Regions from separate parts of the Homo sapiens genome. Here all the other regions are linked to region 1. The links come from fine-mapping of genetic effects on gene expression. A gene starts in region 1. Each other region holds a variant in brackets. All regions are shown on one strand. Distances are between the middles of the regions. Region 1 holds the start of FN1 (fibronectin 1). Region 2 has its middle 69 kb from the start of FN1. Region 3 overlaps LINC02862 (long intergenic non-protein coding RNA 2862).

Evidence for each region.
Region 2: its variant is fine-mapped to the expression of FN1 in blood mononuclear cells (TOPMed, PIP above 0.99).
Region 3: its variant is fine-mapped to the expression of FN1 in lymphoblastoid cells (TwinsUK, PIP 0.95).

Annotation. Positions count from the first base shown.
Region 1 is chr2:215,434,562-215,437,061 of GRCh38, forward strand. It overlaps FN1 (fibronectin 1), which reads right to left and starts at 1,507. Exons shown (of 46, transcript NM_212482.4): 1 at 1,094-1,507; 2 at 135-263. The coding sequence starts at 1,241. FN1-DT (FN1 divergent transcript) reads left to right here and starts at 1,130. Exons shown (of 2, transcript NR_187198.1): 1 at 1,130-1,748; 2 at 2,358-2,500. RefSeq lists an enhancer at 1-18 and silencers at 1,531-1,590, 1,601-1,690.
Region 2 is chr2:215,503,998-215,506,845 of GRCh38, forward strand. No RefSeq gene overlaps it. Among named protein-coding and RNA genes, the nearest start is that of FN1, 69 kb to the left of the region's middle. The variant T/C (reference allele first, on the strand shown) is at 1,574.
Region 3 is chr2:215,277,064-215,279,911 of GRCh38, forward strand. It overlaps LINC02862 (long intergenic non-protein coding RNA 2862), which reads left to right. Exons shown (of 3, transcript NR_174956.1): 2 at 545-620; 3 at 706-884. Among named protein-coding and RNA genes, the nearest start is that of LINC02862, 3.5 kb to the left of the region's middle. The variant C/T (reference allele first, on the strand shown) is at 1,299.

The DNA.
Region 1 (2,500 bases):
TTTAAACTTAAGAGGAAATGACAGGTAATTCTATTAGAAAAATGGTGTATGTATTTTTACTTACTAATGCAAAGTTTAACAATTACCACTTCATGTATTAAAAGATACTAACTATGGGGCTTGTTGTCACTTACCTTCAGGTTTACTCTCGCAGTTAAAACCTCGGCTTCCTCCATAACAAGTACAAACCAACGCATTGCCTAGGTAGGTCCGCTCCCACTGTTGATTTATCTGATAGTGTTTTCCATTGTCATAACAACCGGCTGCAAATAATTGAAGGAAAACGTTACATTTGCATTTCTCCTTTTCCCAAAATTATGGAATTTTCTTCATGTGAATATTGACGTACATATTTTTTTCCTTTTAACTTTGCTAAAAGTTATATACAATGATGTCATTTCCATCTGGCCAGGGGTCTACATAAAAAAGTTGGAAACATTTTGGAAGGCAGACAATTGAAGTCACATTTTTAAAACATGCAAGGAACTTAAATATTCTTTTGGAGTAATAGTCAAAAAGGACAACTTTAAGCAGCTTTCTCAAAGCAAAAGGAGGGTGTGTCTTTGAAAAACGGAAAGAATTCCAACCTCTGTTCTTGGTGAAGTATCCTGAGCGGCCCTAAAGAGGTCTGAACCAATTACATCTCTTCCAAGTTAGTTAGAAACAAGACAGCTATTTCAATACCCCCTTTCCACCCCCATGTTGAAAATATTTGACCAATTATTTAACAGAAGGAAATAAGTAGCAGTAAGGACCACACTAATCCCAGACGGAAAATTTATAGACATGCATCATTTTTCTCTTTAAAGGCAAGTTTTGGTTAATTCCTAGAAGGACAATCTGAACGTGCAGAATTTATTAGAACACGGGAAAGTCGCAGAGTCCTCGTCCTCCAATGCACGGTCTTATCATCCCAGGCCCTCAGAACCAGCGTGCTCAAAACTCGGTCCTTTTGTGTGCACAGCTGGTTTCTCTCAGTAAAGCGCGCACACACTCGCACACACGCGCGCGCACAAAACTTCAGCCCCAACTTTGGTCGGCTTTAGGGTCCCATCCCTGAGGCAGCCTGTTTCAGCCCGCGGTCAGTACTCACGCTTGCTTTGACTGACAGCCACCGGGGACTGGGGCTGAACCATTTGCTGAGCCTGCCTCTTGCTCTTCGAGGCTCCCGTGGAGGGCACCGCTGTCCCCAGGCACTGGACGGCCAGCAGCAGCAGCCCGGGCCCCGGACCCCTAAGCATGTTGAGACGGTGGGGGAGAGACGCCCGCACCGGGAGGCAAGTTGCCACCAAGTTTGCTTCCCTTCGCAACCTGCGGGAAAAATCCCTTCTAATGCCTCCCGGGGGTTGTCGCCTCCAAGAAGGTGGGGGCCAGAGGGTGGGGAAGGGGACGGGTGGAGGGACAGAAGGGATGCAGAGGACCAGAGAAGTTGTGGCTGCAGGTCCCCTCTTCCCGCTCGCGCCTGGGGTTCCCTCTCCTCCCCCTGTGCAGCACAGCCGGCGCGGGCGTCCGAGCGCCGGGAGCCGGGGCTTATATGGGACGGTCCCCTCCCGCCCCTCTGGAGGCCCGGGGCGCGGGGGAGGAGAGACCCGCCGGGCTGTCCCCGCCCCGCCCCACCCCACCCGCCCGCCCGCCCGCCGGCCGCCGCAGCCGACCGCGCGCCGATTGGCCCGGGCTCCGGGTGACGTCACGGGGGACTGTGGGTTCGCAGCGAACAAAAGAGATGCTGATGGCCCGCCAGGACTGGGGCAAGACAACTTTTTTTCGGTTTCCTTTGCGGTCATCAAACTTTTTAGGGGATGGGGGAAGGGATGGGAAGCGGCTGGGAGGAAAGGGAGTGGCTGGACTTGTGTGAAGCGAAGGGGTTGCAAGACGCTCCCCCTTCCCTTTTCTTTTTTATTGGGGGTGGTGGTAGTGTTTGAGGACATTGCGTCACCTCTCTTCGGGGTGGAGGGGGGGAATCTCTGCTTATAGGAGTGTATTTTGTGAGGAAGAAAACCCATAAAATATCCACGACCTTGCAGCTGTTAAGAATCCAGACTTTTCAGTCCCAGGGCGGGGCTGCCTTTCCCCCCATCCCGCTCCCTTTCTTTGGACTAAAGGGTACTGACTCGGGACTCCCTTATTTTGTCTTCACAGCTCCCTGTTCGGACTTCTTCCCTTCTCAGCGCTGTGCCTGTCTGGCTCTGAGAAAGGGCCAGCGGGCGAACGGGGAGCAAAGGGGAACAGAGACCTTTAATGAGCTTCTACTAAGTACCGGGAGTTCCGCGGGGCGCTTTGCAGATCCCGGGGAAGTTCAGAGAATGAAGTTTTCTTTTGCAAGGACAAAGTAACAGTTTACTTTTTTACACATGCAGGAAAGCCTTCCTTTCCTGGGGATGGGACGCCCGTTTCCACTGAAAGTGAAATCACTGTGAACAACCTGAAAATTGGAAAGTTGGACCAGCTGTGGGGAGAGAAAGGTCTTCGTGTCCTTTCCCACGTTCACCGTGCCAGTTAC
Region 2 (2,848 bases), 70 kb after region 1:
TTGCAAAATGGGACTAACAATATAATCCATAAAGTTTCTGTGAGAAAATGCAGGGATAATTATAGAAAGCAGGTAGTGCTGTATCTGGTGGATTAAAGGTCTGTTCCCTTCCCTTTCCTATGGAGGAGGCCATGCCACTAGAAAAACACCTTTAGACCCACAAACTTTTGCTTTTAAATAAAATTAGTTTCCTATTTGTGGGTATCATGAAAATTCTTAGATAGACTTCCACAAAATTTGGAAAGTATTGTTTAGGAAGATCTGATTTAGAATTTGGGTTATGTGGCATATGATAAGAATCACTTTAGGAGATCCTGGGAAGCCTCAAAGAAGTAGGCAGTCATCATACAGGAGCTGAAAGTAGGGTTGAACAAGGGGTATGAATAAACGTCATTTAGGAGAGGCCTGTCATATTCAGTAATATGCCCATAGATGGAACAAAATGGAACATTGGTTTCCAATAGGTCCTTAAATTGAAAGCCATAAGGGTAGGTGCTTTGCAAAGCAGGTATGATTTGTATCCAAATTACCTCTCACATGGGCACCTTGTGGATTTCTCTGGACAGAAGTGCAGCAGGAACCTACTTTTTAATGAATAATGGTTATTGAGTCATTCAAACATCCCAGAATAGCCAGTGGGACCTGGCTGTTCTCCCTTCAAGTTCTTCGCCACCTGTAAGTCACAGAGCCACAGCTGTGGTTCTTCTGCAGGGGCCACAGAGCCCTTCCTCTGCACTTGGAAAAAAATGTCATGTGCTGACTCCAAGAGTGAGTCTTCTGGGGGTACAGGAGACACAGAAACAGAAACTTTCCAAGAAAAACACACTGACTAAACCAAATGACAGAGCAGAAAACATTTTCTGATAAGGCAAAGGGTAATAACTTGGTGAGAATTACACAGGTAATTAAATAGTTGTTTCCAAGGGCTAGGAAAAGACAGGCATCGTCTGTGTTGGACAGAAGGGGAGTTTTGGATTTATTAACATGGATATGAGGGTTTAGGGTTATTTGTGTTTGTGGTAAAGAGCTCAGAGAAGAAGTCTTTATTTACTGCCTAAAGATTTAGTAAGTCAATTTGTTCCCTGCCTTCTATCTCATCCACAGACAATATCTTCTTAAATAGGATACTAGATTGCATGCATGATGTTAAACAAACGTGGAGTAGGAAAATCACCTTATTGAAATAGCTCTTGAGGTGTCCTTAACTCACAAGAACATTGGGAAATTTTCAGACTTTCTCACCAACAGAGGACATAAATACCAAAGGCAAGATGTAAAGTTATGCAAACCTCTGTGGCTGGAATAAATATTTTGTACTTATGGAAAGTCCACTAGAAGACCACTTCTGAATTCAGATCTGTATCAATTAATGGAAGAAAAAAATGGGTTGGAGGAGCCAAATGGGGAATGTTACAAGACGTATTAATGTATAATCAAAATTTAGAAATAGAGGTGGTTCTGAATTGGAATTGGCTTTAGATAAAATACAGAACAGGAAAGAATGGGAGTCCTCTGTTCTAGAAGGGTAGGCTGGCTACAATCGGGTGAATAAGACAATTTCATAAGAAAACGT[T/C]TTGAAAGAATATGAGAGGAAACTGCAAGAGCAGAAGAAAGTAATAAACTCATTGCACAAGAATTTCAGAAGAACTAGGGTCAAAAATACAGTCACAATCTGGCAGCTTTCAGGAGGAGGTGGGGAGTAGATAAGGACAAAGAGGTGGGAAGGGAGATAGGGCCAAGTCCAAAGTGCCTTTCAGACTCTCCCTGAGTCAGCAAACCTTGCTTCTTTTTACTTTTACTTTTTCTGTGGGCTCTGAATGGTTCTTTTAATCTATATTCAGGCAGAGTAACAGGCGTGATGAATTTATAATGTAAAAGGTACACTTTGGGAGGCTGAGGCGGGAGGATCACGAAGTCAGGAGATCGAGACCATCCTGGCTAACACGGTGAAACCCCGCCTCTACTAAAGATACAAAAAATTAGCCGGGCGTGGTGGCGGGCGCCTGTAGTCCCAGCTACTCGGGAGGCTGAGGCAGGAGAATGGCGTGAACCCGGGAGGCGGAGGTTGCAGTGAGCCGAGATCACGCCACTGCACTCCAGCCTGGGCGACAGAGTGAGACTCCGCTTCAAAAAAAAAAAAAAAAAAAAAAAGCCAGAAACGCTCACTAGGCAAAAAAAAAAACTTCTCTTCGAGCAGCCTGGTAGGGCCTCTAGCTGGAGAATATTCAGTTGTGTTAAGGCATCTTAGTAGAGCACCAGTGGTATCTGGAAGAAGGTGCCCCCAAAAGCCTCTATCCCTCATCAGCAGGTTTACACAATTCATCGAACAGATTTAATAGTTACAGATTACTCTGTTAACTAGATTTTGAGAAAACAGTGCAGAGTGTTGGCAGAGCAAAGAGAGAAAATCAAATTCTGGAGTGTGGAATGTTTACCCAAAAGAAATGGCAGTAGCAGGAACTAGGAGCCTGAAGGGGGTGCCTTTGTGTAAAAATGTTTTTGATTTCTGATGCCTACAGCTGGATTTTTAATGTAGCTCAAGTCCGACAGAATGCAGGTAGGAAAAAGAAAGCAGCAATGAATTGTTTGCCTCTTCTTTAAACTCTGTTTCTGAAAATAAAATTTGTTAGTATTTTAAACTTAAAACCCTTCATGATTATTATATCCTTAGTTCTTATGTGTCACTGATATACTAAAATAGGTTGTGAATATGATAGAAAGTGAGATGAAAGAGAGAGAGTGTGGTAAGGCTGTGGGTCTGTGAAACTCCAAGGCCAGATGCTGCTCACCTTATTATGGAACAGGTATGTTGATTCAAGCACAGGGTCAAAGGAATGGGCCAGGGTGA
Region 3 (2,848 bases), 160 kb before region 1:
CCTGATTATAAAAGTAATACATGTTCATTACAGAAATATGTAATAAGAAAGCAAAATCATTCATAATCATACCACATTTAAATAAAGCAATCCTAATATTTGTATATACTATTTCCCATTTTTTCTATGGGTATTCATATATGGTTATATTTCTTTTCTTTTTTTATTTTTTTTTGAGACGGAGTCTCACTGTGTTGCCCAGGCTGGAGTGCAGTGGTGCAATCTCAGCTCACTGCAAGCTCCGCCTCCTGGGTTCACACCATTCTCCTGCCTCAGCCTCCCGAGTAGCTGGGACTACAGGTGCCTGCCACCACGCCTGGCTAATTTTTTGTATTTTTAGTAGAGATGGGTTTTCACCATGTTAGCCAGGATGGTCTCGATCTCCTGACCTCGTGATCCACCTGCCTTGGCCTCCCAAAGTGCTGGGATTACAGGCATAAGCCACCGCACCCAGCTCATAAATGTTTATATTTCTACATAGCTGAGATAATAATGTATGCATTAGTGTGAATCTTATTTTTTTGTTTGTTTGCTTTTGAGACAGGGTCTTGCTCTGTCACCCAGGCTGGAGTTCACTGGCATGATCATGGCTCACTGCAGCCTCCATCTCCTGGACTCAGGTGATCCTCCCACCTCACCCTCTGGAATAGCTGGGACTTCAGGCATGTACCACTACGCCCAGCTAATTTTTTTTATTTTTTGTAGAGACGGAGCTTCACCATGTTGCCCAGGCTGGTCTTGAACATCTGGACTCAAGTTATCTGTCACCTTGGCCTCCCAAAGTGCTGGGATTACAGGCATGAGCCACAGCACCTTGCTTATTCTTTTGTTTGCTATTAAAATATAAGCATTTTCTAGTCAATAAAAATTAACCAAGAACATAATTTGCAATGGCTGCATAATATTCTGTTATATTGAAGTTATAATAGATGTGAGGAGTTTCCTATTGCTGAATATTTACTTTTTCTAGAGGTTAAGAAGAGCTTTTAGAGTCAGAAAGACTTGACTTGTTGACTCTAAAGTCCTGGCTGGTGGTGGGTGCAGTGACTCACGCCCATAATCTCAACACTTTGGGAGGCCGAGGTGGGTGGATCACTTGAGGTCAGGAGTTTCCGACAAGCCTGGTCAACAGGGTGAAACCCTGTCTCTGCTAAAAATATAAAAATTCTGGGTGTGGTAGTGCATGCCTGTAGTCCTAGCTACTTGGGAGGCTGAGGTATGATAATTGCTTGAACCCAGGAGGTGGAGGTTGCAGTGAGGCAAGATTGCACCACTGCACTCCAGCCTGGGAGACAGAA[C/T]GAGTCTTTGCCTTAAAAAAAAAAAAAAAAAAAAAAAATATATATATATATATATATATATACACACACACATACATAAAGTCCTGGGCCAGGCGCGGTGGTGGCTCATGCCTGTAATCCCAGTACTTTGGGAGGCCGAGGCAGGTGGGTCACTTGAGGTCGGGGTTTGAAACCAGCCTGACCAACATGGTGAAATCCTGTCTCTACTAAAAAAAAAAAAAAAAAAAAAAAAATTAGCTGGGCATGGTGGCATGTGTCTGTAATCCCAGTTACTCTGGAGGCTGAGGCAGGAGAATCGCTTGAACCTAGGAGGCAGAGGTTGCAGTGAGCAGAGATTGTGCCACTGCACTCCAGTCTGGGCCACAGAGCAAGACCCTGTCTCAAACAAACAAACAAAAGAAAAAAAGTCCTGGCTGGCTCTGCCACTTATTAGCTATGTGACTTTAGTCAAGTTACGTACTCTCTCTAAAGTGCAATTTTCTCATCTGTAAAAATTGGGATTATTATACAAGCTACTTCATAGGGTGGTTGTGATAGTAAATAAAGATTATGCATATAAAACAGTGCATCACAGTGTCTGACTTTTCTCAGTAAATGTTAATTATTTTGATACTGTGATAAATATCTTAGCTCATACAGCTTTGGTCTAGTTTTATGAAATTATTTAATTTAGAAAATGCCAAGAAGACTTGAAATAAACATAGAGATCTATATTTTAAAGATTATTTTTCAGCTTTCAATTTGACCAAGAGAATAACGACTGTTAGATTCCTGTAAGCAAACTATTAGGTTGCTGCAAAAGTAATTGCGGTTTTTGACCTTGAAAGTTATGGCACAAACCGCAATTACTTTTGCACCAACATAATAAGACAGCATGGAAAAGTTTGGATTTAAATGATGGAAGAACAAAAGCATTTTATGAATGTCTACTTCACTTGGAATTATTCATATTCCTCAGATGTGTTAAAAATTGAAAGATGAGGCCAGCGTGGGAGGCTAACGCCTGTAATCCCAGCACTTTGGGAGGCCGAAATGTGCGAATCACGAGGTCAGGAGATCGAGACCATCCTGGCTAACCCGGTGAAACGCCGTCTCTACTAAAAATACAAAAAAATTAGCCAGGCGTGTTGGCGGGCGCCTGTAGTCCCAGCTACTTGGGAGGCTGAAGCAGGAGAATGGCGTGAACCCAGGAGGCGGAGCTTGCAGTGAGCCGAGATCCCGCCACGGCACTCCAGCCTGGGCGACAGAGCGAGACTCTGTCTCAAGAAAAAAAAAAAAAATTGAAAGATGACTGGTTCACTTAGTGAAAGATAGAAAAAAGGAAGGAGGGGAAGGAGGGAAGGAAAACGGGAGGAAGGGAGGGAAGGAAGGAAGGAGGGAAGAAGGGAGGGAGGGAAGGAAGGAAGGAGGGAAGGAGGGACGGAGGGAAGGAGGGAGGGAGGGGAGGGGAAGGGAAGGGAGGTGGAAAGGGAAGGGGAGGGAAGGAAGGAAAGGGAAGGGAGGGAGGGAGGAAGGAGGGAGGGAGGGAAGGAAAGAAGGAAGGAAGGGAA